Regions from separate parts of the Homo sapiens genome. Here region 1 is linked to region 2. Evidence: fine-mapped expression QTL. A gene starts in region 2. The other region holds a variant in brackets. All regions are shown on one strand. Distances are between the middles of the regions.

Region 1 (15,423 bases), 250 kb after region 2:
AGGACATCATGGGAGCTTCCAAGAACTGCAAGCAGCTCCCAGGCTGGAGCCCAGAGCATGTGTTGGTGGTGGCATCAGGAGTGTTGGGGGAAGAACTAGAAAGGAAAGTAGGACCCCATCCTGGGGAATCCTGCTTTCTAAGAAACATGTCCTGTAGGCCCCAGGAGGGTGTGTGATGGGATTTGAGTGGAAATGAGGGGTCAGTCCATAGCTCTGGTTTGGGAATCATGCGAGGAGATGGCAAGGAGAGAAAGAAAATGAATGAAGGCACTCAGACAGTAGGAATGTTAGGAAAGAAAAGAAGAGGCTGGAGAATGAGGCTTAAGGTATGCCTCTATCAGGATTCAGCAGAAGACACAGAGAGAAGAACCAGAAAGGCAAGTAGGTGGAAAAGAGTGCAGCATGGAGGGCGCAAAGGCAAGGAGGAGCTCCAAATGCAGCAAAGCCGCTGAGCAGGCGGAGGGATGAAAAGGAACCAGAGTATTCAGTAGAAGAGGGTTGTGTTGGGGTTGGGCCTTTTCTTTAAACATTTACCTTTGTCCTTCTCTGACCCTTGCTCGTGTTGTCCATGTCGCGGGACTGGATGAGGCACTCTGCTACTGTTGTTCGAACAGGAGAGGAAAAAAAGATACAATTCTTACAAAATGATTAATCCTCAGAGGAAACCCTGAAAAAGTCATTCCCACCAATTTTAGACACATTCTGGTGTTCAGTCGGATTGCATTGCCATAGCAACCACTCTTCCGTAACCACATAAACAGGAGCTTTACAATAACAAAATAATGAAGTGTACAGCCTGAGAATTGAGAACTTTCTCCAGTGGGGTTACCAGGTAGGAGAGGCTCTTGTTGTTTTCCATTTATATAGTGTAAAGTTGGCACCTTCTCTGGTGACCTTCTATAGGGTGAGGGTGGGGCATCTTAAAACTGCTCTTGGAGACAAGTAACTTAACTTTGTATGTAAACGTACATACATATACACACAGACACACACACATATAGCTGACAGTAAGTTTGTTATCAATCTACAATGTAAAGTACTTATCAAAAGAGCTAATGTGATATTAAGAAATTTGTATTATAAAACGATGAAATTTAAAGCTACTCATGATTCTATTTTCCAGTGATAACCAGCACTAGCATGTTTATGTATAAATATAAGTATAAATATAGATATCAAAATATGCAAGCACATATACATATATACACATATACAACATACACATGTAAAACAAACTTGAGAATATGCATGTTGTGCTATTTTGTATGCTGTTTTCTTTCCCTTAACAATATGTTTCAGTTACCTATTGCAGCATCAAAACAACTTCAAAACTTGTGTGCTGAAACAACCACCATTTTGGTTTCCCATGAGTCTGTGGGTCAGGATCCTGGGCAGACATGGTGGGCATGACTCATCTCTGCTCCACAGTGTTTGGACCTTCAAGGGGGAGGCCTCAAACAAGTGAGGACTTAGACCATCCGTCATGGCTCATTCACTCACATGGTGGGACCTTAGTGTTCCTTCATGGAACCTCTTTCTCCAGCACTTTCTTGTCTTCCAGGGCCTCTCCATATGTCCTTTCTTTTCAGCAGGGTAACCTGGAAATCTAACATGTCAGCTCAGGGCTCCAAGAGCACAGAAGAAGCTGCTGTCAGATCTTTTTAGCACCTGGGATCAGAGATCCTAGAACGGAACTCCCTCCACATTCCACTGGTCAGTGCAGTCACAGGCCTGGCTCACATTCAGTGAAGTAGAGGAACGGACTCCACATTTCAGGGAGGAGGGACTCACATAGGGAGGGAAAGAATTTATGGCAGCCATCTTTGGAAACTGGCTAGCACACAATATCGATCATGAGTCATTCCCACATCATTCTGTACTCTTCAGAAGCATAGCTGTTAGCGGTTGCAGAGATTTTTTTTTTTTTTTACTACATTTGTACTATTTCATCTAACCAAATCAGTCATTGCAATCTTAGGCTGTATTCATAGACTCACAGTGCCTAGTAAGGCAAACTGATATCCACATTCTAGCCTACCCTGATAGACCGTCAGACCTCTCTAGAGAACTGAATTTATTTATGGTCACTATGGTTTACGATGGACATGGACAACCTGGAACTTGTTTGAGAGTTGGTAAGGGGCCTCACAACCACATTATGGAGAAATGAAGATACTGTGCATATTTGTTGGAGAAGGGAAGGGAAAGGTGAAGAAGAGCTCGTTGTATTAAAATAGCTCAGTACTGTTGTGGGAAGAGGTGTGTAGTTAATTTTGAATGGCTTCAAGAGGTAGCCCTAGGACTAATGGGAGGAAGTTATAGGAAGTCTTTAAAGTGTGGAATACATTAATTACTAGTGGTCAAATCTGCCCAAGATGGAATCGAATTGACTTAAAAGTGACTGGGTTTCCTTTCCCTGGAACTGTCTGGGCAGAGAGTTTGTTTGGACACTATAGGGGAGATAACAGCTTTAGTCATCTGGTTGATTAAATGACCTTCATTAGCTCCTCCAATACTTGGTTTCTATATTTAAATAGATTTCTACCGCAGAGGGTGTGTGCATGTGGGGATGCCGCCTACTGACCCTCTTCCTAACAATAATTGCTGGTGGCCATTGGGGGGTGGGCATTTTTTCTTCAATTTTTTGTTAATTCCTTAAAAGTTCCATGATGCCTCAAGGACAGAAACTATTCATTTATTCAGAAAGAGAAAAAAGGAAAAACAACTGAAGAAGCATCCATTAAACTTTTAATTCTCTAAGAAATTAAACCAAACATTTCCTACATCAGCCAGCAGTTGCTTGGACTGTGTAGAACTTTTTTTTTTTTTTTTTTTTTGAGACGGAGTCTTACTCTGTCACCTAGCCTGGAGTGCAGCGGCGCGATCTCGGCTCACCACAACCTCCGCCTCCCGGGTTCAAGCGTTTCTCCTGCCTCAGTCTCCCAAGTAGCTGGGACTATAGGCTCCCACCACCATGCCCAGCTAATTTTGTATTTTTAGTAGAGACAAGGTTTCACCATGTTGGCCAGGCTGGTCTCGAACTCCTGACCTCAGGTGATCCACCCGCCTCGACCTCCCAAAGTGCTGGGACTACAGGCGTGAGCCACCGCACTCAGCCAGAATTTTTAAGTTGGGAAAAATCTTAACCATATCAATGCCAAGCATTACACATTTTAAAACTGAGACTACTACGTCCAGAAGAGCTCAGTGACTTGCCCAAGGTCATATAGAAAGAAGGTCGATAGTAAAATAGAAATTAGAACCAAAAGTCCCTCAATTCTAGTACAAACTCATTTGCTTCAATTCAGCAACAACAAATTAAACAAAAAGTACCCACTGGAGCTCAACCTTCAAACATACATTAATGTGTGTGTGTGTGTGTGTGTGTGTGTGTGTGTGTGTGTGTGTGTGTGTGTGCAGATATGTATATGTCAATTAAATTACATTAAAGCAAAATTTTAAGATGTAATTAAAGAGAATCAATCAGTAAATTGTGCTATTAGGAAATATATTTCTTTCGAATCAGATTATGACAAAGTTTCTGACTTTAAGATGTAGTTACAGTTCAAAATACAAAACTGTCAGAGTCAGAGAACATATTTAGGGCTGATATGTAGAACCATAGAAGGCTCTAAGTAAATGTCACTAAAACCTTGCTATTTATGCTGGCCAGTAGAGTGAGACTTGATCAAATGCTCATGAAGTCCTGGGCCCATGAAGGGTCATATCTAGTTGCTTCTATCTTGGAAGGATAGCCATAACTATTTCTCACCTACATGTGTTTCAGCACCACAGACCTTTTTTTCTTTTAACGATGAGTAGGACTCTGCCCACCAGGAGTCACAGAATCTACGGATAGGGAGGAATTTCTATGGAACAATAGCTCTCAATGTTTAATGTACACATGAATCTCCTGGAGAGCTGTTGAAATGCAGACTGTGAATCAGTAGGTCTGGGGTACTGCTGAGAATCTGCTTTTCTAACAAGCTCCCAGGTGATGCTGATGCTGCTGGTCCAGGGACCACACTTTTAGTTGCAAGATGGTCCAAGTTGTCTGATCCATTCCTCCACCTTCACTTGAAATACGACTGATGAAGCCAAATTATTTGGAGAAAAGGTGAGAAAATGTTCTAGCAATACAAATTTTACTTACACAAATAAGTCATACCAGTGATTCAGATCATTTATGACAAAAAAATTGTGTCTTAAAAAACGTTTTATTGCTATTGACCCCAATTTCCTCTGCTTCTATATAAAGTCTTTTCTTATTATTTCATATGTAACATCTGTGTCAGAGCCATCACTTCCACATGTCAGTGGTCCTCAGCCTCGGCTCATGTTCAAATCACATGGAAGGCTTGGAATACTTCCAATGTTCTGCCCACACCTCCCAGATCATTTAATCACAGTTTGTAGGCAAGGGGCCTGGGCATCAGTATTTTTTAAAGCCCTGCAAGTGATTTCAATAAGCAGCCAAGGTTGATAACCACTAGTCTACCTTTTCTTTCCATACCCCTGAGAATATAGGACATGTGGGACAAGTGTGACCAGCTCAATCCCTTTGCTAGCCTTCATTTATTCAATAGATCTTTCTTGAATATCTATTTTTTTTGCCAGGCAATGGGCTGCATGCTGGGGATGAACAGTGAGCAGAAACAAAGTTTAGATGGGAGAATATGTGTGTAGCAAGTACATCCGTGCTTATGAAGCTGGGCTTCTCCCCTGTGCTTCCCACGTGCTGCTCTGAGGCCTGACTCCAGCTGGCTGAAGAGGTGGGCCTTTTGATGCAGTGCTCTTGGCCCTGGCCCTTCTGTTTTGACATTTTTCAGGACCCTCACAAAACTCTGCTCTTGTTTTTGTGCATCTCACTGTATAACTTCCTAGAGTAATTAGAAAATGTATTCTTACATCCCAGCCTTCACTGGAAGAAGGAAAATCTAGATTTTATTTTTTTGCTCATGCGCCAACTTTCCCTTCCCCTCGTCTCAGTGACTCCCCCTGCCCACCACTTATGGTCTTTCTACTCCATTGAGTATGTTCCTTTGTCCTCGGCATCGTGGTCTTTTCTGGGTTGTGACAGGCAAGCCTCAGCAGTCAGCCCCAGATCCACAGGGACATTGCTTAGAGCCTGCGTATCAAGTGAGGTCCGTGAACCTGCAAAATTGGTGTCACTTAGGATCTTATTCAGAATGTAGAATCTCAGGCTGTGGCCCAGTCCTACAGAATCTGCATTTTTACCAGATCCCAATGTGACTCATACGCACATTACAGTTTGAGAAGCTCATAGAGAACTTTGAGGAATGAAGAGTTATCATGTACCTTAGAATTCCACTCTCATATATGGATTTTCAGATTCACTTTTGAAAATGTTGATTTATAGTTTTTTCGGAGTTTAACAGTTTAATGGTCTAATGCTCAAATACTCTGTGTTCTTTTTTTTTTTTTTTTTTTTTTTTTTTTTTTTTTTTGAGACGGAGTCTCGCTCTGTCGCCCAGGCCGGACTGCGGACTGCAGTGGCGCAATCTCGGCTCACTGCAAGCTCCGCTTCCCGGGTTCACGCCATTCTCCTGCCTCAGCCTCCCGAGTAGCTGGGACTACAGGCGCCCGCCACCGCGCCCGGCTAATTTTTTGTATTTTTAGTAGAGACGGGGTTTCACCTTGTTAGCCAGGATGGTCTCGATCTCCTGACCTCATGATCCACCCGCCTCGGCCTCCCAAAGTGCTGGGATTACAGGCGTGAGCCACCGCGCCCGGCCTACTCTGTGTTCTTAACTAGACAACAGACTATAAACTTTGGGGTCTAGTCCTGGCAGCACAACTAATATTCTGCTGTAAACACTGAAGTCTCTGATTTGTCTGCTTGTTCAGATGGAACGCACCCCTGTCCCACACTGACAAGGCAACAAAGGTGTCTGTGTGTAGGGCCAAATTTTTCCCTTTAAAAGGCTTTGAATTTGCTCAAACACTAGGAACAGTGCTTGGTTTAGGTCCCAGAGTTCTTGGCACATAAAGTATAGAAGACAATTTTGGACTGAAAACTTCTTAGGGCACTGGTAACCTTGATCAAAGAGAAAAACTTTCTGAACACCCGATTTAGGACAGAACTGTATGTGGATAGTCCTGACAGTCTGGGTGAATGCAAAACATGCTCCTACCTTGCCAAGCAGCTGAACAAGTTGACCTGTTGGGTAGAGTTCTTTGGTGTTGTCCACTTAAACAATGGATAATGTCTGCCAAGCACAGCAATTTTAAATTTAGAAGTTATAAGCTTTTTTTTCCCTTGGCAATAAGTATTCAAGTTCAGGGGCTTTTTAGGACAGTCTTCATTTACAACAATAAAATCATGTCCTAGAATGGCAGTCCTCAACCTTGACTGTACATCTGAATTCCAGGAAGCTTTTAAATTATACTGTGTCCTGGGTTCCTCAAGAGATGCTGACTTAATTCACCTGGGGTAAGACCTGGGTTACAGTGTGTATAGAGCTCCCCAGGTGATTTCAACATGCAGGCAGGTTTGAGAGCCACTTTCATAGAGGAAGAGTCCTGGCTTCTAACTTACCAGTGTTCAAGTATCCAGTGAATCCAATAACCATGGCCTATGATTTAGAAATGTTTAAGAAGTGTGACTTACGAGCTGTCTCCTTGAAAGAATCACTTAAATTCCATAAGCCTCGGTTTCTTCTCTAAAATAAGGATAATTATTACATTAGAGGGTAGTTGTGGGGATTTAAATAAAATATATAAGGTGACTAGGACAGCGTCTAGCATATAATAAGCACTCTACAAAATGGGAATTGTTACAAAGAGCTGTGGAAATGGCCCTATTTTCTACAGGCAGAAATGGAACAAGGTGTCCTCTGAATCTAGTGCTGGTATTATGGTAAAGGCTTTGACAAAGGAATTTTCTGTGAGGTTATACTATTGGACCCACAGATGACACCTAAAATAAGACCAAGGGATGCTATTCCCTCGTTGTTCTTTTCTGTCTTAAGATGAAACAGAATAAAGCAGCTGTCACTGAAGCAGATTAGTCATGCATAATACCTACTTACTCCTCATGGAAAAAGAAACCCAACCCAGACATCTATTAAGAAGAAAACTGTTATAAAGTATATAAGGACATCCAAGGAGAAAGTAATGTGTCCCAAATTTGAGAATTAAGTTGATTCCCTTTTTTAAAGGGTATTGATACTATAATCCTATGAAAGCCCATAAAGCAAATTGAAGTAAATGTGTGATGAGTAATCCACCTCACGGAAAGCTAGTTAGAAACCTCCTGGATTCTTGTTGTGTGTGTGTGGTTTTTTTTTTTTTTTTTTTTTTTTGAGACGGAGTCTTGCTTTGTTGCCAGGCTGGAGTGCAGTGGTGCGGTCTCGGCTCATTGCAAGCTCCGCCTCCTGGGTTCAAGTGATTCTCCTGCCTCAGCCTCCCAAGTAGCTGGGATTACAGGCACGTGCCACCACGCCCGGCTAATTTTTGTATTTTTAGTAGAGATGGGGTTTCACCATGTTAGCCAGGCTGGTCTTGAACTCCTGACCTCGTGATCCGCCCGCCTCAGCCTCCCAAAGTGCTGGGATTACAGGCGTGAGCCACCGCGCCCGGCTGTGTTTTTTTTTTCCATTTAATTTCAGGCTATTAATCAGATATTTTAAAATAAATGTCTTTTCTATTTTTTTCTTATTAAAACCTCAGTTTATTTTATGCGAACATATGATGAATTTATGTGTGTATATATATCACACATTTAAATATAAAGCAGGATTTTTAAAATAGAGCAGCAGCTCTTTAGAATCAAAGGAATTCTGCTACAGTGAATGGTGGAATATCCAAAATGAGATGAGAACATCAAAATATCATATATTCAATTGAAATTACTCCACTGGTTCTCAATCAAAATGCTAACTCTACACTCTTCTTGCAGAAGTCACACCAGGGGTACTCATGTTCTCAGATTTTTATTTTTTTTATTTAGCCATTTTGGCTGAGCTAACAACCTCCCATTAAAATAGATTCTAAAATGTAGGATTTGTTTTCCTAAATAATTAAGCTGCTTGTGGAATAACATATATGTGTGATGTTAACTGAGCTCTGGTCTCATTCTAACTTCTCTTTCATCCTGTTTCCAG[A/T]GTGGTCTTTAGAAAACAGAGAGCTGGTTATATTATTTCACCACTCAAAAAAATCTTTAACCATTTCAAATCAATGTTCTTAACTCTACATTCAAGACCCCCACAAATCTAGCCACAAATGACTCTCTGGTTCTGACTTGTCCTAAACGTTTTATGGTGCCCATCTCTGCACCGTTGCTCCCTTGGTCTCTTCCGAGAATACCCTTTCCACTTCATATCTGCCTTTATAAACCTTACCCAATTCTTTATGCCTCAGCTCAAATGCTACCTCCTTTATAGGGCAGCCTCAGTTCCCACCCCTACCCCACTTTCATCTTAATTTTTCTTCTTCCCAACTTGGTGTTTCATAGAACTTCATATCATTGTGTCACCCTTAATTACACCTTTCTTTATGTTAACAAATGTTTAGGAAGCTATAGTGAATAATGCTCAAGGGAAAAGACCATACACTTTTGAGCCAGACTAGACCTGAGTTACAACCCTGGCTCTTGAGCAAGTCGAATTAATTTTTCTGAATTTCAGCTTCTTCATCTGTAAACTGAAGAAAATACTTGCATGGATTAGTAGAGGAGAGTTTATGAGACTATGCAGGTGAAGGTCTCCAGTAAGGGACAGCTATTAGTACCACAGTTATTTAGATCATCTTTCCCACTAGTCCATTAACAGTATCTTGCCGCATCTTACCCTCCTTAGTGTTTTCTGAATTGAATGGAAGCAGCCCAAATTGACAGCATCTGCTGCCTGGCTCTTACTGAGCTATTAGTTTTTCAACATCTGTTTTGAATTTCAGAAAGAAATTTCCATTTTTAGGCAACAGAAGCATTTTCCTGTTGTATTTCAATATGTCTCAATCCTGAAATGATTAGAACTTCTGCTTGATTGAATCCAAGTCAGCAAAGCCATGGAGAACAGCCCAGCCCACGAATATGTCTACTTTACCTAGGCTTAAGAGACATTAACCCTCTGTACAAAGAGCCTGGGCAACAAAAAACACTGTGTGAGCTTTTAATAACATCGTCCTTTGGCTCAGATGTTTAAATAGCAACAATAATGGAGCTTGGAAAGCTCTTAATTACCCACAATATTGGAAGAGAGGGATAGCCAAGGTCAGAGAAACCCTGGTTTGCTTTGATGTCTAGAGTGCTGATAGCTGCACAAGATGCATTCATAATGTGTTTTTAATAACAATTATTGAGTCTCTTTTCTGGATTCCCAATTCCTTTATAAAATTCCAAAAAGAAGCAGCCAGTCTTGCCTCCAGTTGCTTCTGAATGATTTCCTATGGAAAGCAGCATTTTCGAAAACACCATGTTTGATGAATTATCTGAGTCTTTCTTTATCCCCTTCCAAAGTAAATGCAACATAGAGGGAACATTAAGGGGAAATCATGGCGGGGGGTGGAGGCCTCAACTTTCAGAGGAAAATCTTCTGGCTGTCAGAAATATGTGAGAAATACCATGGGAACATAAAATCAACCATGCTAATTATGAGACATAATTGAGGTTATGTTTTATGTGTCAGAATGAGTAGCTCAATTTTATCCATCAAGATAAAAAATAAAAATCAGGTAAAAAAAAAAAAAAGGGACAGAGTTGTCAAGATTCCAGAAGTAGAAGAAACTATCTTGCCATAGTGTACAACAGTGTTTCAGCACCAAGGACAGAGCCTTATGGGGTTTAATGCCCACTCATCCTACATACTTAATGAATTTTTAATGTTTTGAAATTTTCACTCAGATGTTTATATACTCATCTACATATTGTTTTTCTGAGCCCTAGTTACACGTCAGACCTTAGTATGATAGACAAAGACTCACCAGCCAGTTAACAGCTCTCAAGGTAAAGCTGAAGCAGGAGATGAGCAAGATAGGCAAGTTAATAAATAATTATAACACTATATGACAAGCACTATTACATAGTTGTGTACAAGTCACGTGGGAGCCAATGAAGGGAATGCTTAACTCTGACTGGTGCAAAGGAAGACTTTACAAAGGAGTTGACATTTGAGCTGGATCTTGAAGAATGAGTGAAATTTGCAAGACAGAGAAGAAACATCATGAGAGAGTGCACAATATGTTCAGGGATGTCTGGAAATGTAACTTGATATGGCTGAAACGTAGAGTAAATAGGGAAATGAGGAATAGGATAAATAAAATCACCAAGGGCTGGTATTCCAAGTTAAGGGCTTATCTTCTAAGCTAAGAATGGTAAGCTTTATCCTGGGGGAACAGAAAGCCCTTGAATGGTTTTGAGTAGGGATATGATCTGATCAGATTTGTGTTTCAGAAAGATAATTTAGATGCAGGGGGGAAGTCAGATGGAAAAGAAGAAGTGAGAGGACAAAGGGTAGAAGAGGGTGACATTTCTCCAGATTTTCTGGGACTGAGGGGCAGCTCCAACATAAACATGGTTACACAGGGAGAATTTACTTGGCCCAGCTTCCATTAGCTATTTGCCAGTGTTTCACATGTGAATTGTGTCTCTTCAGATTCCTCCAAGAAGATAAAAGATGCCTTGACTGAATTTAATGAGGGTGGGAGCCTCAAACAATATGACCCACATGAGGTAAGAACATTTCCATTTTAAGCCTTTAAAAACCCCTGTGTTTTTTAGCCTTTCCATAATTTGTTTCCCTCTTGGAGACTCCGCTTGCCTTGAAGAACTTGCTCCTCAGCATGTTTCCTCTTAAGTCTCAAGTGAGCCATTTGTGCTACCTGGCATTATATGTTTCCCAAGCCCATACACTCATTCCACTGTCCTAGAAGACTACCACTACTTCTCCTCTGCTCATCTCTCACCCCTCCTCTCCTCATCCTCAGTTAACAACTGAGTTTTCTGCTTCACTGAAAAAATAGAACAAACAGAACAGATCTTTCACAAGCTCCCTCACCCCATAGGCCCACCTATCTGTACCTTTTCTTCTATAACCAGAGATGACCTCTCCATGCTCCTATCTACGTCCAACTCCCCCACGTGTGCACTCAACCCCATCCTCTTTTGGCCTACTTACAGGCATTGCTTCAGCAACATATCTTCCCCAGACTCCCTCTTTCCCTCCCTCCTCGTCCCTCCTTTTCTCTATATCTCTACCTCTGTCTCCTTCATATCAGCTTTCTTCGTATATTTTATTTTTCCATCAACATGTAAACATCCTGTTATTTCTTCTATATTAAAAACATTTTCCTGACTCCACTTCCTCCTCTAGGTACCACCTCATTTCCCTCCTGTGTTTTACAGCGAAACTGTACAAAATACTTCTCTATACTCATTGCCTCCAAATTCTCTTTTTCCTACTTTCTTGAAATGCCTTGCATCAGTCTATAACCTTCACTCTTCCACTCAAATCACTAGTCAAGATAGCCAAGGGCCTCCCTATGGCTAAATCCAATAGCAATTTTGCTCAACAACACTGGACACGGTTGGTCAAGTCATCCTCCATTTTCTTCACTACATTCTACATTCTCCTGATTTCTTCTTATCCTTCTACTTGACATTTACACTTAAAAATCAAATGGGCATCTCAAACTTAACATGAGCTAAACTGATGTGTCCTTAATCTTCCCCTATAAAGCCTGTTTTTCCAGCAGTCTACTCCATTTCAGTAAATGACAACTCTACCCTTCAAGTTATTCAACCTGAAACTATGCAGTCATCATCAACTTCTGTCCTCTCACATCCCACATCCAATTCATTGGCAAATTCTGTTAGATCTACCTTCAAAATGTATCCAAAATATAGACACATCTCGCCACTTGCACTGCTAGCATCCCGACCTGAGTCATCACCATATTTTGCCCAGATTATTGCAAGAGTCTCCTAACTCATCTCCCTGCTTCTGCCCTTGCTGCTTCAGTCTATTCTTCACACACATCCTGAGCAATCCGTTAAAACTTATGTCAGAGCTTGTCACTGCTCTACTCCACAATCTCCCATGGTTCCCCCAATCCCTACTCAGAGTAAACATGAAGGTCATTACAAGCTGCACCTCCCCCAGCTCTCTGACCTCATCTCTTGCTACTCTCCCCATCTTCATTCCTTTTCAGCATATTAGCCTTCTTGATGCTATCAAATAAGCCAGTGTCACCGTAACCTCAGCACCATTGTGCTTGCTGTTACTGTTTCTTAAAATGTTCCTCCTCAGCACATCACATTGTCCATTATCTTACCACCTTCCAGTCTATGCTCAAGTCACCTTCTCAGTGATCATCACCTTCTTCATCTAAAACTTGAAGCCCTCTTTCTGACATTTCCTATCCCCCTGCTCTGCATTATTTTCCTCCTAAGTACTTCTCACCACCTGTCACACTATATAATTTACTTAATTAATTGTCTGTCTCTCCCACTAGCATATTTTTGTTCACTGCTGTGTCTTCAGTGCCTGGAAAAGTATCTGGCTTATAGCAGGCATTCAATAAACATTTGTGGACTGAATAAATGAATGCAAGATCTCCCCCTACTTTCAAATTCAATGACTCTAACATTTCTTGGGCTTCTATGCACTGTACTGGGCACTGTAGAAGGCATAAAAATATAGAAGCACAGTTCCTGCCCTCCAGGACTTACTTCCTACTGGCAGGGTCAGGTTTGAAAGCCATGACCCTGGAATTACATGGTCTTAAGTTAGACTTCTACCTCTGCCATCAACAAGTGGTCTTGAATAATATTTCATATCTTTGAGCCTCACTTTCCTCATCTATAAACTGTACATAACAAAAAAAGCCTCGAAGTTTGTGGATGAGTGAATTAAATGAGAGGATCTTTGCAAAGTGGCTAACATTCTACAAGCACTTAAAAATCTGTACCTATTATTATCCCTCTTCCATCCCCTTTCCCCAGAATGTTTTTAACTCAATTCCCTTTTCCCTGCTCCTGAGTCCTTTTATGAAGACTAACCACAGAAAAGTGACTGATCTGCAGGATTCACTTAGGGAGAGACTGGCCACTTTCTTATTCACGTTGTCATCCATTGAACAAAACTGAGTCAACACCTTCTCCGTTGGACACTGGAAATGAATCAACAGAGCCTGTGCCCTCAAGGTACACCTAAAAGGGGCTTTGGATAAAATACACCAGTTGCAGAGAGAATGAAGCAGGAAGAAGGTTGCCAGAACAGGGGCGAGACTGAGAATGCACCATTTCAAAGAACATTCCTGAGGAGAAACCATGCAGAGAAGATAGCAGAGCCAGCAAAGAACTCACTGCCCCACACCCCCCACCCCCAGCTCCAAAAACACGGGAACAAAGCCTGGCGGCGGCTGCTAATCAGCTTGTCCGCCCTGGGGCTGATGAGTGGGAGAGGAACAGTTTGGTCAGGGCCACTGCAGGTGTGGAGGCCACAGGAGCTTTCAGAAGCAGGGAGTCGCTTGGCTGCTATGAGCACGCAGCCGCCCTCGCCTCTGTCGGGGCTGGCCCCCACTTTTTGTAATGCCAGGCACTGCTGGGTCCCAGGGAGCTCTGTCACTCTGATTTCGTTCTCTCACACAGTGCAGCTGACTTCTAGTAGGTGTAATGTCATGGCACAGGGTTAGGGAAATAAGAAGGGTTTAATTTCTCTTGAGTTTGATGGCTTACTGCTGCTAAAATGTCTCAATGAGAAACGAGTTAGCTGTGGGAAGGGGCAGATTGCTAGCAAAGGTAGGATGGGAATAAAACTTTGCAGAGTGGCAGAGCTGCATCTGGCCGTGATGAACATGCGCTTGCCCATCAGTACCAAGTGATTCTCTGGAGAATAGAGTGGTGGCAGACAGCTAGAGAGTGGGCAAAACCCAGAAAAGCAAAAGAGGCAGGTGGCTTGGTGGCACTGTGAGCCTGGACCCAGACACCTGATCACAAAGCCCAGCTCTGCCACACGCTTTATGATCTTCAGCAAGTTATTTATGTTGTCAAAATTTGTTTTATCCCCAGAATGACAGTAACAGTTCTTCCCCACACTGCTGTCTTGAGAATGAAAGTGCCGGATGCCTGCTAAGCTCTCCATCTAGTTCTCTCTTCTTGGTCTGTGTAAGGATTAACACACTCTCTTTAAGTGTGTTGCAGCAGGAGCAAATTGCCCAGCTAATTCCTGCATAAAAGCTGCTGGGGAAAAACAGAGTTCCTTTGGCCTGAACCATGAGTGTGCCTGGGATGTTAGTCCAGGTCTCAGAGAATTGCCAGCATGCCTCATAGTGGTTGGTCATCTGGTTTGGGCATGACCCCTAGCCACTCCCTAGTTAGTCTCTCATCATGCATTTACTAAGCAGCTACTCTGTTCCTGGGCTGTGCTTTTAAAGAACTTTTGTATAACCCAGATATCACCTTGAGAGTGTGGCACATCGTTGCATGTCTTTGCCTGCTGAACATGGGATACTGGGAGGGAGTGTCAGGGAGCACTATGCCAGCTCTGGACCCTGTGACAGATATAGTAGCAGGAGCACTGGACAGGGAGTCAGGAGGTCTGGCTTCTGGTTTCACTCTGCTGCTAGCTCGCTGGGGCTCATCACTGAATTTCCTGAGCCTCGGAGGCATCAGAAGACTGAGTCCCCTCTGAGACTCTTCTGGTTTGCATGTTCTGTGCTTCTGGGTTTATTCTGTGCATCCTGTTCTCTAGGATGGGGACATGCATGGTTGGATGAGTTCCATCAGTATTATTTTCTAAGTTCTCATAACAGTTTGTCAGCTCTTTTCCTATGGCACTCGCCACTGATGACCACACATTGCAATTATTTCAATATCTTTACCTCTTATATAACACTGACTCTTTGAAGATACGGACTCATGCCTAATTCATTGGTGCCCAGCACTGTACTGTGCCCTGCACTTAAGAGGCTCAAGATATATAGATATATAGATATAGATATAGATATAGGTATATACACACACATATATACACATAAATATATGTATGTGGGTATATATATATACATATGTGTATATATATATATATATATACATATGTATATATATATATATATACACATATGTATATATATATATATATATATATATATATATATATATATATATATAGCACATTTCCCCCCTTTTTCCAATCTGTGTCTTCTTCAGCAAATTGTGAGTGGAGATACATATATCCATTCAATCTATACATAGACTGAATGGATCCCATAGTAGTTGATGACATCCAGGGACCAGGCACCAGGCTATTCCTCAGGTGCACTGATTAGGACACATCATCCATTCAAATACCTATGAAGAACCCTGTGGTAGGTGGTGTGGGGGATTCAAAGATGAAAGGAGACATTCTCACTACTTCCAGGAGCTCTGGATTGAGTAGAGGAACCAAGGTCTGTCACAAACAA
Region 2 (15,261 bases):
AGGCGGCACGGGCAACCAGTTAGGCTTCAGAACTGCAGTCGCAGCTCTTGACCAATTAGAAGCGGAGACGTCAGAGGGTCGCGCCGCTGCAGGAACCCGCTCTGCCTGAGCTACCGCGAGTCGTAGAAAATTACGTAATGATAGGGGGCCGGTCAGAGTGAGGGCACCTGAGGTACACGAAATCCCTCCGGCTTGCCCACTTCCTCGGACTTTCCACCAATCAGGAGCTTCCTCCCCAGCACCAACCAATTGTGGGAGAGAAGTTTTCTCTGTGCTACAAGCCCGGAATTTCATTCATACCCAGCTACGCTCCGAATGAGGGAGCAGAGGTACAGCGGCCGAATGAGCGGGAACAGTTATTCCACGACAGGTGTACATCAGACGCATTGCTTAGGCCTCTTATTTTACGTTCTCCAAGCAACTCCATAAGACAACTGTCTCGGAAAGGCTACAGTGATGACAGACCGACTTAAGTTCGGATTCGGCTTCCACCGCTTCTTAGTGGTGAGACCCCCCACCCCTCCCCTCCTCCCAAGTCTGAGCCTAAGTTTATCAACAAAACTGAGGCAAAGCACTTATTGGCAGTTCTGTGAATTTTAACAGGGAAAAAAATCGGTAAATCATCGGGCGTATAGTAAGCAGGCAACGAGTAAAAACCATTATTACGGTTCAAGCAGAACTCTTTGATTCCCCATCTTCCCCCCGATTTTGCTCATCGCAGTTACACAACACCTAGTTGATCAGGACAAAGCTCTAGGTGTTTTTATTCCTTTCATGCATAAGCTATCCAACTCTTTACCTCTGAACTATACTTCAATCTGTTCACTACATCTCCATTACCAGGATTCTGGGTCACAGTGTATCTCTCACCTGGCCAGGGCCTCCTAACTGGCCTCCTTGCCCCCACTCTTAATATCTTCCTTAATATCTTAATATATGTTGCTCATCCCTGTCCCTCACTCCATGATTTAAAAAAAAAAAAAAAAAGCCCGGGCGCGGTGGCTCACCCACCCAAAGTGTAATCAGCACTTTGCGAGGCCGAGACGGGCGGAGCACCTGAGGTCAGGAGCTTGAGACCAGGCTGGCCAACATGATGAAACCCTGTCTCTACTAAAACTACAAAAATTAGCCAGGTGTGGTGGCGAGCGCCTGTAACCCCAGCTGCTCGGGAGCCTGAGGCAGGAGAATTGCTTGAACCTGGGAGGTGGAGGTTGCAGTGAGCCGAGTTCCTGCCACTGCACTCCAGCCTGGGCGACAGAGTGACACACCGTTTCAAAATAAATAAATAAATAAATAAATAAAAAATAAAAGTCAAATCATGTCACTCCCCTGTTTAAAAGCCTGGAATGGCTCTTCATTTGCACTTAGAATAAAATCCCAACTCCATGCTAGTTTACAAAGCCGTTTATGCTTTGTAAACCTATTATACTCCTAACCATGCTCCAGCAAAACTTGCTTCCTTTCTTTTTTTTGTATACACCGAGCTCATTCCTGCCGAGGGCCTTTGTGCTAGCTATTGCCTTTGCCTGAAACACTGTACTCTCCCTCATGTGCTAGCATGGGTGATTCCTTCTTTAACTCATATATCAGCTTAAAGGTCGCCACCTCAGGGAGGACTTTCCCTGACCAATTAATCAAAATTAGCCCCTACTGAGTTCCTTACTCTTACACCACCCTGTTTTCTTTTCTTTATTTCTTTTTTTTTCCTGAGACAGAGTCTCGCTCTGTCGCCCAGGCTGGAGAGCAGTAGCGTGATCTTGGCTCACTGCAACCTCCGCCTCCTGGGTTCAAGCGATTCTCCTGCCTCAGCCTCCCGAGTAGCTGGGACTACAGGCGCACACCACCATGTCCGTCTAATTTTTTTGTATTTTTAGTAGAGACTGGGTTTAACCATGTTGGCCAGGCTGGTCTCGAACTCCTGACCTCAAGTGATCCACCCGCCTCAGCCTCCCAAACTGCTGGGATTATAGGCATGAGCCACCACGCCCGGCCTCCTATTTTTTTCATCCCTGGTCCCTAGACTTACACACTGAAATGCCAGTTTCATGAGAGCATGAATCTATATTGTTCTGTTCACAGCTGTATAAAAGAGCACCTTAGAACAGTGCCTGGCATGGAGTAGGTGCTGAAGTACTTTTGAGTCAAAGTTACTGGGATGGTGATCATTGTATGGCTGGCTTCTTACTCTTCAGGCCTCAGCTCAAATTTGGCACCACAAAGTGGCCTTCCCTGACCCCCCGCCCCAATTTTCATAGCATTTTTCACTATTTGAAATTATCTTATTTTATTCCTTAATATGTATTGTCTATTCTCCCTGTTATACACTCCAAGAAAGCAAGGACCTTGTCTGTTTTGTTCACTTCTGTCATTCTAGTGCGTACCACTGTGCCAGACACACAGTGGTACTCAACAAGTAACAGCAGGGTCACTGAGCTAATAAGTGGTGCAGCCTGGATCCTAACCCAGGTATGTGTAAATTTGAAGCCCCTGCTTTCAGGAAGATACCCAGTAGGGACAATGGCCACACAAAAGAGGAACTAAATTGCATTTTACGGTCTAATTTACCTTTGTATCTATCACACCTAGAGAGGCCATAAAGGAACTAAAAAAAGCAGGAAATGTCCAGAAATTCTGAAATGGAAGTTTAAAGGAAGGAGTGATGGCTTCTGCCCGGTAATCTGAAAAAGCTTCATGAAGGTGGAAACACGGCAGGAAAGCTAACAGAGTTAAGGAGCTGACACCGAGGGGCGGCAGGGAGTGCCAGTCTTGCTTCAGACGCCCTGGGCTTGAATCTTGGCTCCATCTCTTGTGTGACCTTAGGGTTGTGTTATTTTCACCTTTCTAGGCCCTAGTTTCTTCATCAGTAAAACGAATGTACTTAAAGGGCTCTTGACAAGACTTAGGAAATACACATAAAGTTGCTTTACACAGTGCTGAGACCATAGTAAGTGCTCTATAAATGCAAACTGCCATTAGTATTAGTAGCATTTCTGATGAAAGCGTGCTGATCTTACCAGCAGCTATTAGCTGACCACAGTTATGCGGAGCAACAGAAAGCTTCCTACCCCCCCGGGTTGAAAGGCGCGACACCAGAAAGCGGTGGGTCTGGCTCCAGGTGCCACTGTTGCGGACTCTCGACCCCAGCCTAGATTTTCTCAGACGCTTGAGCCGCAATCTGCCGCTCTAGCAACGGGGTCCGCCAGGTCTCGGTGGTGCGGGGCCTCGCGCTTGCGCAGTGGGCACGGCAGCGGCGCGCGGAGGAGGGTGAGGGGCGGGCCCAGCGAGCGGACGCCGGGCGCGGCGGCGCGCGGAGAAGTGCGGCGGAGCGGCGCCTGCATTAGCAGGTAACCGCGCACTGGGTGCGCCGGGGAGGGCGGTGTGGGTTAGTCAGGCTTCAGGCTTGGGTCGAGGAGGCTGCCTTCGCGCTTACCGCGTCTCGGGTCAGCTACCGACCCTGTCAGCGTGAGCGTCTGTGTTCCTGAAGTCCGGTCGCGACGCTGGGGCGGCCCACGCAGAGTCCCACCCCGGATCGCGTCCAAGGTGGCGGCGAAGCCCCAGGACAGCCGCCTTGGACCCACGCCGATCTCCCGACCTGAAAAACCTTAACCTCAGGGCACCGCCAGGGTCAGAGCCCCAGTTTATGTTTGTTTACGGATTGAGCCCTCTCGATTCTCGGAGTTAGAATGGAGGGCTCATCTCTGGGATCTGGCTGTTGACAGGGGCTCAGTACCTCACAGAGCAGCCTCTTTACATTTTGGAGAGAACCGAGGTCTTCCTCGCCTAACTTTTATCGTCTGGTTTTACTCAAAACGACTCCAGTCTCTCCACATTGGAAGACAGCTGCCTTTTGCCCTTCCACGCCCTTCTTTTGAGTTTACTCTCCCTGGTTCTTTCACCTGGCTTCCTGTCTAAGACTCTTTATTCTGGAAATTCTCTTCTGGATCCACTCCCGTTTTTAAGAGATTCTCCCAAAACTGGATTCCTAGAGTACATTTATAGTAATGCAGTTCTCAAGTCAGACCTGAATCCTAATCTAGAGCTGTGCCAGCTAAGTAGGTGTCCTTAGGGAAATCCCTTAACTTCGCTAAGCCTCATTTTTTTTTCATCGAAAATGTGTACAGTCTTAAGTACTGTATCTCCAGGTGGTTGTGAGGATGAAAGGAGGTGAAGTATGCAAAATCATGAGCATGATACCTGGTACATAGTAAGCACTCGATTGATGTCAGTTATTTTTCCGAACAGATGATTCTCGAGAGAGGCACAGTTGGCAGGCCGGGTGCGGTGGGTCACGCCTGTAATCCCAGCACTTTGGAAGGCCAAGGCAGGCGGATCACCTGAGGTCAGGGAGTTCAAGACCAGCCTGGCCAACATGGTGAAACCCTGTCTGTACTAAAAAAATACAAAAATTAGCCTGGCGTGGTGGCGGGAGCCTGTAATCCCAGCTACTTGAGAGGCTGAGGCAGGAGAATCGTTTGAACCTGGGAGGTGGAGGTTGCAATGAGCCGAGATCGAGCTATTGCACTCCAGCCTGGGCAACAGAGCGAGACTCCGTCTCAAAAAAAAAAAAAAGAGAGAAGCACAGTTTTCTTAGAATCAAATGCAAAATATAATAATAGCAATAAAATTTTCATCAGTCATATAATTGATTTTTTAAATTAGTTTTTATATTTTTAAAAAAATGATGTTGCTAATGTTGAGGAGTGCACAGTGAAGTAGGTACCAGAGTCAAAGGATGGTACAATTTGATAAAATCATTTGGAAGCAACAAGGATATATTTCACAAGCTTTAGAAATGTCAATTACTTAATTTCACAAAAGTACATCTGAAAATTTTCACACAGAAATAATTCGTAATGCAGAAAATATGAAGAAAGATGGTAGTGATAGCATTATTTACACTTGTGACAACATTTGAACTTTTGTAATGAAATTTTTTAACATACACAAAAATAGAATCAGTGAGCCCCCCACGTACCCATTACCCCACTTCAATAATGATCAGTATTTTGCCTATGTTGTTTTTGTGAAAAATCTGAAACCTAGTAAGGTGTCTAAAAATGGGAGAAGAGTTGAATAAAATGGGATACATTTATTTAGAATACTATAAAGCTTTTGAAACAGTACAGAATTGTGTATGTAACATCACAACTGTGAAAATTCAAAAACTAACATCTAATTTATGTGTAGAAAAAAGACAAAGAGGCCAGGCATAGTGGCTCAAGCCTGTAATCCTAGCACTTTGGGAAGCTGAGGCGAGGGATCACTTGAGGTCAGGAATTTGAGATCAGCCTGGCCAACATAGTTAAACCCCATCTCTACTAAAAATACAAAAATTAGCCAGGTGTGGTGGTGGACGCCTGTAGTCCCAGCTACTGGGGAGGCTGAGGCATGAGAATCGCTTGAACCTGGGAGGTGGAGGTTGCAGTGAGCTGAGATCATGCCACTGCACTCTAGCCTGGGCAACAGAGGGAAACTCCATCTCAAAAAAAAAAAAAAAAAAAGAAGAAGAAGAAGGAAATACAATAAAATATTAATTTGTTGCCCTTTACTTGTGGGATTGTGGATGGTTCCCTGTTTTTGTATTTTATAAATATTCCATAAAAATCATGTATCATTGTTACAACAAAAAAAAATCTAAAAAATCACACCTGAACTGAGCAGGATCAAATATGCTAGAGTGGGTTCACTGTTATAGAGAATAAAGATGCTGTAACTTCTCCTGATCTATTCTTGCAGTCTACATTTACATTAGCATTCTTGCCTGCTGCCTCACATTAGCACTTCATATTGAATTTATATGCTCAGCTAACATGTCCAGATCTTTAACCAACTGTCTTCTGTGTAAGTGATTTAACTCTGTGAAATGTATTTCCCTTATTTTGAACAGTGTTCCCCCTCAGAGTAGAAAAAGGTTTCCTGTGATAGGATGACTTTTTTCCCCTCATTCATTTTCTTCCTGGGATCTCACTCAGACTTCATGCATCTACACACACTTCCTAAAACAAGGATTTCTAACAATTCAAGTAAGATAATTTTGTTTTATCACAATTTTTTTCTCAGATTATAATGAGATCTGATTAAAAAAACTGTTCTGCTCTTGGTTGGTGAACTAGAGCTGCCTTTTAAGATGATGATGTAGTACATATGACACAGTTGAGAGAGAGGGGTCACCTTCCAAGAAAAAATGCATAAATGAGACTTGTTTCAAATCAGTTTATGAAGAAACTTTGTTTCCTAGGTATGCAAAGAAGCCTTTTCACCCTGATGTCCTTAGAGATAATATGGATCAGTCCAGAGTTCTCCTCTGGGTGAAAGCAGAACCCTTTATAGTGGGTGCCTTGCAGGTCCCCCCTCCATCCAAGTTTAGTCTTCACTATCTCAGGAAGATATCCACCTATGTGCAAATCCGGGCCACAGAAGGAGCTTACCCGCGCCTCTACTGGTCTACATGGAGGCACATCGCTTGTGGGAAGCTGCAGTTGGCCAAGGACCTGGCGTGGCTTTACTTCGAAATATTTGATAGTCTTTCAATGAAGACACCTGAGGAGCGCCTGGAATGGTCTGAGGTTCTGTCCAACTGCATGTCTGAGGAGGAAGTTGAAAAGCAGAGAAATCAGGTACGGATTGATATGTGTGTATACTTAATTACTTTTGGAAAGAAACCATTCTTTTTTAAATTAAAAAATGTTTTTGCTTATTACAATTTTTAGATAGAAACAGAGTTTCACTTTGTTGCCCAGGCTGGTCTTGAACTCCCGGCTTCAAGCAGTCTTCCTGCCTCGGCCTCCCAAAATGTTAGGATTACAGGCATGAGCCACCATGTCTGGCCCAATAAACCATTCTTAATTTTTGTATTAGCTGTAAAATTTTAGGTTTTAGGCTAATGGCCATTGTAATCTCAAGTTATCATTTGAGTTTTAGTAGTTCCAGTTTGGCAGTATTTCATGTATTCAATGAATTAGTCCTTACTTACCAGACCTTACTCACCTACTCCCAAAGCAGTAATGTTACAGAGACCCTGTTATTGAAAAAGGGAAATATTTTACTGACTTTAAAAAGATTTTGGGGTGAATGAGTGTTATGAACAACTGATATGTTACAGTCAGAGCACCTGACTATTTTAAAATGAACATCTGCTACATGATGGGATTCAAAGATGATTAGGATAGCATCTCAACCCTCATGGAGCTTATGGACTAGTAGAGGAAGCTGGTATTAAAAAAAGATGCTATTTAATAGTGTGATATGTATAATAAAAGAATACACAAAGTACAGAAATTGAATAAAGAATGATTTATTTCAGTGATAAGGAAAGACTTCACAGAGAAAGTATATTAATCAAGTAGGCTGATTATAGTAATAGACAACCCAGTATTTCAGTGGCTTAGAACAGTAACAGTTTATTTCTCATTCAGGCAGCAATCTAACACAGTTGCTCCTGGTTGGACAAATCTCTGGGCTGCTGTCATCCAAGCGATGACCAGGGATCCATGCTTCTATCACTTGGAGTCACTGTTAATCAGCTTTGTTAAAAGCTGATTTCATTCATTAAGAACAAACAAATGAAATTCCAGTGGCTTACAGGGGAAAAGGTTTATTTCTTGCCCATTTTACATGTGGGCTTCATTTTTGCTATGGCATTTGTCCAGGCTCCGTGTTTCCCCATTTAGGGACACAGGCTAAAGAAATAGCTTCTGTGTAGATCATTCCCATTCTTATAACAGAAGGGAAGATCAACAGAATGGAGGAAACTCATGATGTCTCTTTTTAAATTCTTATTTTATGTATACAGCTCAATCAGTTTGGGGATAAGTATATGCTGTGAAACCATCATGACCGTCAAGGACATAGACATACCCATCACCCCCCATAGGTTCCCCCTCCTCTTTTATGCTTGTTATTTTGTGTGTGTATCTGTTAAGAACACTTAACATAAGATCTACTGTCTTAGAGAATTTTAAGTATACAACATGTAATTGTTATCTCTAGGCGGTATGCTGTAGAGTAGATCTTCAGAACTTAATTTTCTTGCATAACGGAAACTTTGTAGCCTTTGACCATCAACCTCCCCATTTCCCCCTCCTCCTAGCCCTTGTCAGTCACCCTTCTGTCTGTTTTTATGAGTTTGACTATTTTAGATTCCACATATAAGTGAGATTACATAGCTTTGTCTTTCTGTGTCTGGCGTGTTTTACTTAGCATAATGTCCTCCAGGTCCATCCATGTTGTTGAAAATGGCAGGATTTCTCTCTCTTTCTGTTTTTAAGAGACAGGATCTCACTCTGTTGCCCAAGCTGGAGTACAGGGATGTAATCATAGCTCACTATAGCCTGGAATTTCTGGGCACAAGCAATCCTTCCACCTCAGCCTCCTGAGTGGTTAGGACTACAGGTGTGTGCTATCATGCCTGGCAAATTTTTGTATTTTTTTCATAGAGGTCAGGATCTCACTGTGTTGCCCAGGCTGGTCTTGAACTCTTGGCCTCAAGTGATCCTCCCACCTCAGCCTCCCAAAGTGTTGGGATTACAGGCATAAGCCACTGTACCCAACATGATTTCTTTCTTTTTTAAGGCCAAATGGTACTCCATTATATATGCATGCCAAGTTTTCTTTATCTAGTCATCCATCTGTGGACATTTAGGCTGCTTCCATATCTTGGCCATTATCAATAATGCTGCAATGAACATGGGAGTGCAGGTATTTGCAGGATCCTGATTTCAATTCCTTTGGATAAATACCCAGAAGTGGGATTGCTAGATCGTATGGTAGTTCTCTTTTTTATTTTTTGAGAAACCACTATACTATTTATTTATTTTTTTTTTGAGACGGAGTCTCGCTCTGTCGCCCAGGCTGGAGCGCGGTGGCGCGATCTCAGCTCATTGCAAGCTCCACCTCCCAGGTTCACACCATTCTCCTGCCTCAGCCTCCTGAGTAGCTGGGACTACAGGCACCCACCACCATGCCCGGCTAGTTTTGTGTATTTTTTAATAGAGATGGGGTTCACCATGTTAGCCAGGATGGTCTCAATCTCCTGACCTCATGATCCGCCTGCCTCGGCCTCCCAAAGTGCTGGGATTACAGGCGTGAGCCACCGCGCCCGGCCCTATTTTTTATAATGGCTGTACCAGTTTACATTCTCACTGACAGTGTACCAGGGTTCCCTTTTCTTCACATCCTTACTAATACTTGTTAATCTTTTGTTAACAAGTGTGAGGTGATATCTCATTGTGGTTTTGCTTTATATTTCTCTAATGAGTAGTGATGTTGAGCACCTTTTCGTATACCTGTTGGCCATTTGTATGTCTTCATTGGAGAAATGTCTATTCAGGTCCATAGTCCATTTTTTAATTAGGTTATTTGGTTTTTCTTGCTATTGAGCTGCAGGAGTTCATTATATATTTTCGATATTAACCCCTTACCAGATACATGGTTTACCTTTTCTTCTGTTGATTGTTTCCTTAGTTGTGCAGAAGCTTTTTAGTTTGATATAATTCAACTTATTTTTGCATTGGTTGCCTGTGCTTTTGGTGTCATATCCAAACAATCATTACCAAGACCAATGTCAAGGAGCTTTTTCCTTATTTTTCTCTAGGAGTTTTACCATTTCACCCCTTACATTTAAGTCTTTCCTCCATTTTGAGTTGATTGTGTATGGTATAAGCTATGGTCCCAATTTCATTCTTTTGCATTTGTAGATCCAGTTTTCTCAGCATCATTTATTGAAGAGACTATTCTGCGTTTTGTATTCTTGACACCCTTGTGGAAAATTAGTTGACCATATATGTGTGAGTTTGTTTCTGGACTCATGATGCCTCTTAAAACTTTTGCTCAGATTTGACATAAACTAAGACTACTTTTATTCCATTGGCTAAGGCATTATTCCCATGAAGATGGGAAGGTAAACCACCTTTCAGGAGATAAGGAAAATCCCATGGCCATGGGTAGGGCTGTATAAGCCTCTTAGAGAATTTGAAAGTGAGCAATAGTAAATAATAATACAATTTGCCACAGCCATGCCCACTGGGGCCTCAGAGTCCTTTTGCTTTCATTTCTTTTGAGAGTTTTATTATTAGGCTTGAAAGTGATAAAGATAAATTCATTCACATTCAGTTGCTGTAATTCATTTATGCCATATCTAACTCCAAAGGAAGATGGGAAATGCCATCTAATTACATACCCAGGAAGAAGAAAAAAAGTAGTAAGCATCTAGCAGTCTCTGCCTTATAGGGTCATATCTAAACAACGTTTTGGAAATTGAAAAGTTTATCAAGCAATGAAGAGGGAAAGGGCAGTACATTTATTCATTAATCAAATATTTATTATCTACTATGTACTCGGTATAGTAGTGGATGCTGGGCATATAGAGATGAATAAAACCTTCAGGAAGTTCCAGATTTTTTGAGTGCTTTTTATGTACCAGATGCTTTGCTAGTTACTAGGAGTATAAAAATGGAAAAGGCAAGGATCCTATAGTCTCCATGAAGAAATAATGATAATGTAACAAATAATTGTTTAAAATGGAAGTATATATAAAATCAGGGAATTACACTTAGTGAAAAAAGCCAATCCCAAGAGGTTACATACTATATGATTCTATTTACCTAATGTTCTTGAAATAATAAAATTATAGAGATGGAGAACAAGTAAGTGGTTGCTAAGGGCCTAAGAAGGGGTGAGTGGGACAGAGAAGTGCATATGGCTGTAGAAGGGCAACATGAGAGATTGTTCTGTTGATGGAAATGTTCTCGTATCTTGACTGTATCGGTGTCAATATCCTGATTGTGATATTGTCCTATAGTTTGGCAAGGCGGGTAAAGGGTACATGGGATCTTTCTGTGTGAATTCTCACAACTATATCTCAATCTACAGTTATCTCAGAAGTTCAATTAAGAAAGTAAAAATTTATAAAATATACAAATTCATGGGGCTTCACATTGTTAGTTGATTAAATAGGTCTGGGTGATCCTGAGAATCTGTACTTTTAAGTTTCTCAGATGATAGTGTTTTTAGCCAGGTTGGGAATCAGGGTGAATATAGCTGTAGACCCAGATGTATTACTTTACTTTTTTGCCTCTCCTGTATGGGGGTGGGTAGATGAGGGTAATCAGGGGCTTCAAGTCGTGAGCTTCAACCACACCCTTCCTTGAATAAGAAATGACTATACATCTATCAGACCAACAGTGTTTTTGTCTTTAAGTGAAACACCCCTTTAAGAATTTGCTGAAAACCTGAGGCCTACTCCCTTGAAAAATGCACATATACCAAAAAATTACATACAATTTCAGGTATTGCACTGGTATCCTAAACTTTCTTGACAGGTTTGTGAGTCTTAAGTTAGACCTCTGTCTTAACTGAATTTTCTTCTTTCTTACTTCCATCTACTTATTTATTCAAATTACTAAGGTTGGTTTTTTTTAAATTGTAAGTTTAAACTTCTGAAATAATGTACTTAAAGTATGTACTACATCCTTTCATCAGTTTTGAGAGATAATTTCTATAGCCATAGATGTTATACAGCTTTCTGTGAAGGTAAATTATTCCACTTTAATTAGTTTTAGGAACTCTTGGCCAGGCACAGGGGTTCACGCCTGTAATCCCAGCACTTTGGGAAGCCAAGGCGGGCAGATCACCTGAGGTCAGGAGTTCAAGACCAGCCTGGCCAACATGGTGAAACCCTATCTCTACTAAAAATACAAAAAAATTAGTTGGGCGTGGTGGCACATGCTTGTAATCCCAGCTACTCAGGAGGCAGAGGCAGGAGAATCTCGCTTGAACCAGGAAGGCGGAGGTTGCAGTGAGCTGAGATCGCATCATTGCACTCCAGCCTGGGCGACAAGAGTGAAACTCTGTCTCAAAAAAAAAAGAAAAAGAAACTCTTACATCTGGGTACCAGAGACATACATATCAAAACTGGCAATGTTTCTAAGTTGGTTTTTTTAGGATCAGCCAACTTGTGAATTTACTATGTCTACTTAGTTGTTAGACTAGTGGTTGATGTTTTAAAACGTCTATTCATCTTTTATTTTCTTCTTGGACAGCTTTCAGTGGACACGCTACAGTTTCTGCTCTTCTTATACATTCAACAGTTGAACAAGGTCTCCCTAAGGACATCTTTGATTGGCGAAGAGTGGCCCAGTCCCAGAAACAAATCTCAGTCTCCTGACCTGACTGAAAAATCTAATTGTCATAATAAGGTACTCCTTATATCTTGATCTCATTCTCTAAAAGGGACAATTTGTGTGGGAGATGGTTCACTTGCATTAAAAATTATGATGAGATTTCTTACATAAGCCAGTGATTTGATGGCTTGTTTTGTTTTTCACTTTTTTTTTAAATTATAAAACAAAATCAGTGTGTACAGTCTTAATCACAATAGAGAACTGGTTGCAGTGCCTTCACTGGTAGGAAAACCACTTGCTGATTTGTGGGCAGATCATCACTATGTTCAATTAGCACTGCCGTTTTCAACATGTCAATCAATGCGAATCAACTTATGTGACTAAGGAGCATCAAGAAGATGGAGTGCTTGCAAAATCTTTTGAAATCTACTGAAAAAAATTATAAAAATATCTTCTCATGTTGTTTAAGTAATTACATACGTGACAACCCAGAAGCTAAATTTAACTGCCTCACATTGTGAATTTTAGAGGATGTCTTATTGCTTTTTTCTTTCTGTTTTTGTAAAGAAAACCAAAATATTTTTACTTGTTCTTGTGTAAGTATATTGAAAAACTTTAAGTAAAATGTAGGCCTCAGTATTAATGCCATGTACAAGCTCTTTAAAAATGTTCTAAAGCTAAGAAAAAATATCTCTTTGCTATTTGGAACTTTTCTAATCTCCTTTTTAATAAGTCTCTCCTCCTTTATATTCCATGATGCTATTACTCTTGGTTTTGCTTCTAACTCTCTCTTCTCACTTTCTTTCATAAATTTCTCTCCCCTGGCCCTTACAAGCAGCTATTCTGTCTGGGTCAATTTTCCCTTCTCTCTTAACTTATTCATTCAATGTAATTCTTTATATTCCTACGACTTCATATATCTCAGTGACTCCCAACTTTGTGTCCTTCCCAGAGCTCTTGCTTTATAGTTACCGCTTTATATAGATGCCCTAGCTATAGCTTAAATTCAGAATGTTCAAGCCCAGATGTATGAGAGATACCAGTCACTACCTCTCTCTCCACATGTAGTTCCTGCAGAATGGGCACTGTTAGGAGATGGTGTTTTGAGCCAAGGTAGCCTCCATTCATTTCTGCCTCTATCATTTATTATCATTTAGTCATACGATTTTAGGCAAGTCAGTTAACTTCTCTAGGCCTTGGCTTCCCTTCTGTAAGTGAGGATAATAATGCATGTTTCTGAATGACTATGAGACTTCAGTAATATATTAGCATGGGACTTATTGCATAGTAAGCACCAATAAATGGTGACTTTGGTTTATACTACAGCACGACCTCTCTGAGTAACTGATTGGACCGGGGTGGACACTTGAGTAGCCCATTTATTGCTATACATTTGAAATTGGCCAGATTTAAAGTGACGACCTGGGCCAGTCAGTTCCCCCAGGAAGAAATTATGCATTGGTGATAGGTGTTTGAACTAAAAACGCATTTGACATTGGGACTGGAATAGCCATCATGCTTGTTAATGAACTGGAATTCTAAGGGATTAGAAATTCTGAGGCCAAGCCGGGCGGATCACCTTTATAAGGTTTATATAACTACCTAATTCCTTTTGGGGGATGAGGCAGAGTATAAATACAAAATAATTAAAATATAGAAATTTTAGATCTTGTGGAATCTCTTTATTAAGAGTGCTTTCTTTTAACTTTTTTTTAGAACTGGAATGATTACAGTCACCAAGCTTTTGTCTATGATCATCTGTCTGATCTCCTCGAGCTGCTTTTAGATCCAAAACAACTCACTGCATCATTTCATTCAACCCATAGTAGTCTAGTGTCTCGAGAAGCTGTTGTGGCGCTCAGCTTCCTTATTGAAGGTACAATAAGTAGAGCCAGGAAGATCTATCCACTTCATGAACTTGCACTGTGGCAACCACTGCATGCAGATAGTGGCTTCTCAAAGATCTCTAAGACTTTCTCTTTCTACAAACTGGAAACCTGGTTGAGGTCCTGTTTGACTGGGAATCCATTTGGTACATCAGCTTGCCTCAAGTCTGGAAAGAAATTGGCTTGGGCTCATCAAGGTATTTTTTAATATTTTAATCTACATTAAATTGAATGACAACTTAAGGAACCTAGTGTTTTCTAATATATTAGTGATCTCGTGTCTTCTCTAGAAGACCTAAAAAATACTGCTCCTATAAAAGAGAAAAAGGAACATCTGTCTTTTGTGCATGACTTTTTCTCTCAAGGATTATACTAAAATATTAAAAATGATAGTAGGATTACAAATTATTTTTATCTTCTTTTACTGTTATTTTTCTAAATAACCATATATTATGTACCTGGTACATGTGTAATAAAAGTAAACGTATGTAATAAAAATAAACAAGAAATGTTTTAAAAGAAGAAGAATAATAGCATACTCATGTGACCTCCCAGTATTTCAGCGGTGTTGTTTACAAGGGTGTCCCGGTGGCTTGCAGGGAGGTACAGTCTGAGAAGGCAGTCACGTAACGGTGTGACTGTGTTAGGAGAACCTGCGCGTATTTTTTGAGTGTCAGTTTGTGCAACACACTGTGTGGGATAGGAAGATGTGCTCTCAGGTAGTAATGATCTTAGGAGTAAAGACATGAACTCAGGCTGGGTGCGGTGGCTCACACCTGTAATCCCAGCAATTTGGGAGGCTGAGGTTGGCGGAAGGTGAGGAGTTCGAGACCAGCCTGGCCAACATGGAGAAACCTCAGCTCTACTAAAAATACAAAAATTAGCCAGGCGTGGTGGCATGCACTGGTAATCTCAGCTCCTCAGGACGCTGAGGCAGGAGAATCTCTTGAACCTGGGAGGTGGAGGTTACAGTGAACTGAGATTGCACCACTGCACTCCAGCCTGAGTGACAGAGTGAGACTCCGTCTCACAAAAAAGAAGAAAAAAAGGCATGAACTCAAATAGGATTAATGGGATAATGTGGTAAGTTAGGAAGGGTACAGAATTAATATTATGGTAATTTAGAGAGGTGAATTACGTTTGGGATGATAAAGTAAAGCATCTTGGAGGAGAAGATATTTGAGTTAGGACAGCTTTGCCACTTACTAGCCATATGACCTTAGGCATAGACCTTAACTTGAAGCGTAGACACGAAA

Evidence for each region. PIP is the estimated chance that this variant, and not a neighbour inherited with it, causes the effect.
Region 1: its variant is fine-mapped to the expression of TBCCD1 in thyroid (GTEx, PIP 0.97).

The regions. Positions count from the first base shown.
Region 1 is chr3:186,302,168-186,317,590 of GRCh38, reverse strand. It overlaps DGKG (diacylglycerol kinase gamma), which reads left to right. Exons shown (of 25, transcript NM_001346.3): 3 at 10,614-10,690. Among named protein-coding and RNA genes, the nearest start is that of DGKG, 52 kb to the left of the region's middle. The variant A/T (reference allele first, on the strand shown) is at 8,127.
Region 2 is chr3:186,555,350-186,570,610 of GRCh38, reverse strand. It overlaps TBCCD1 (TBCC domain containing 1), which reads left to right and starts at 3,272. Exons shown (of 8, transcript NM_018138.5): 1 at 3,272-3,344; 2 at 6,239-6,617; 3 at 12,039-12,194; 4 at 13,836-14,202. The coding sequence starts at 6,282. RefSeq lists a silencer at 3,079-3,368.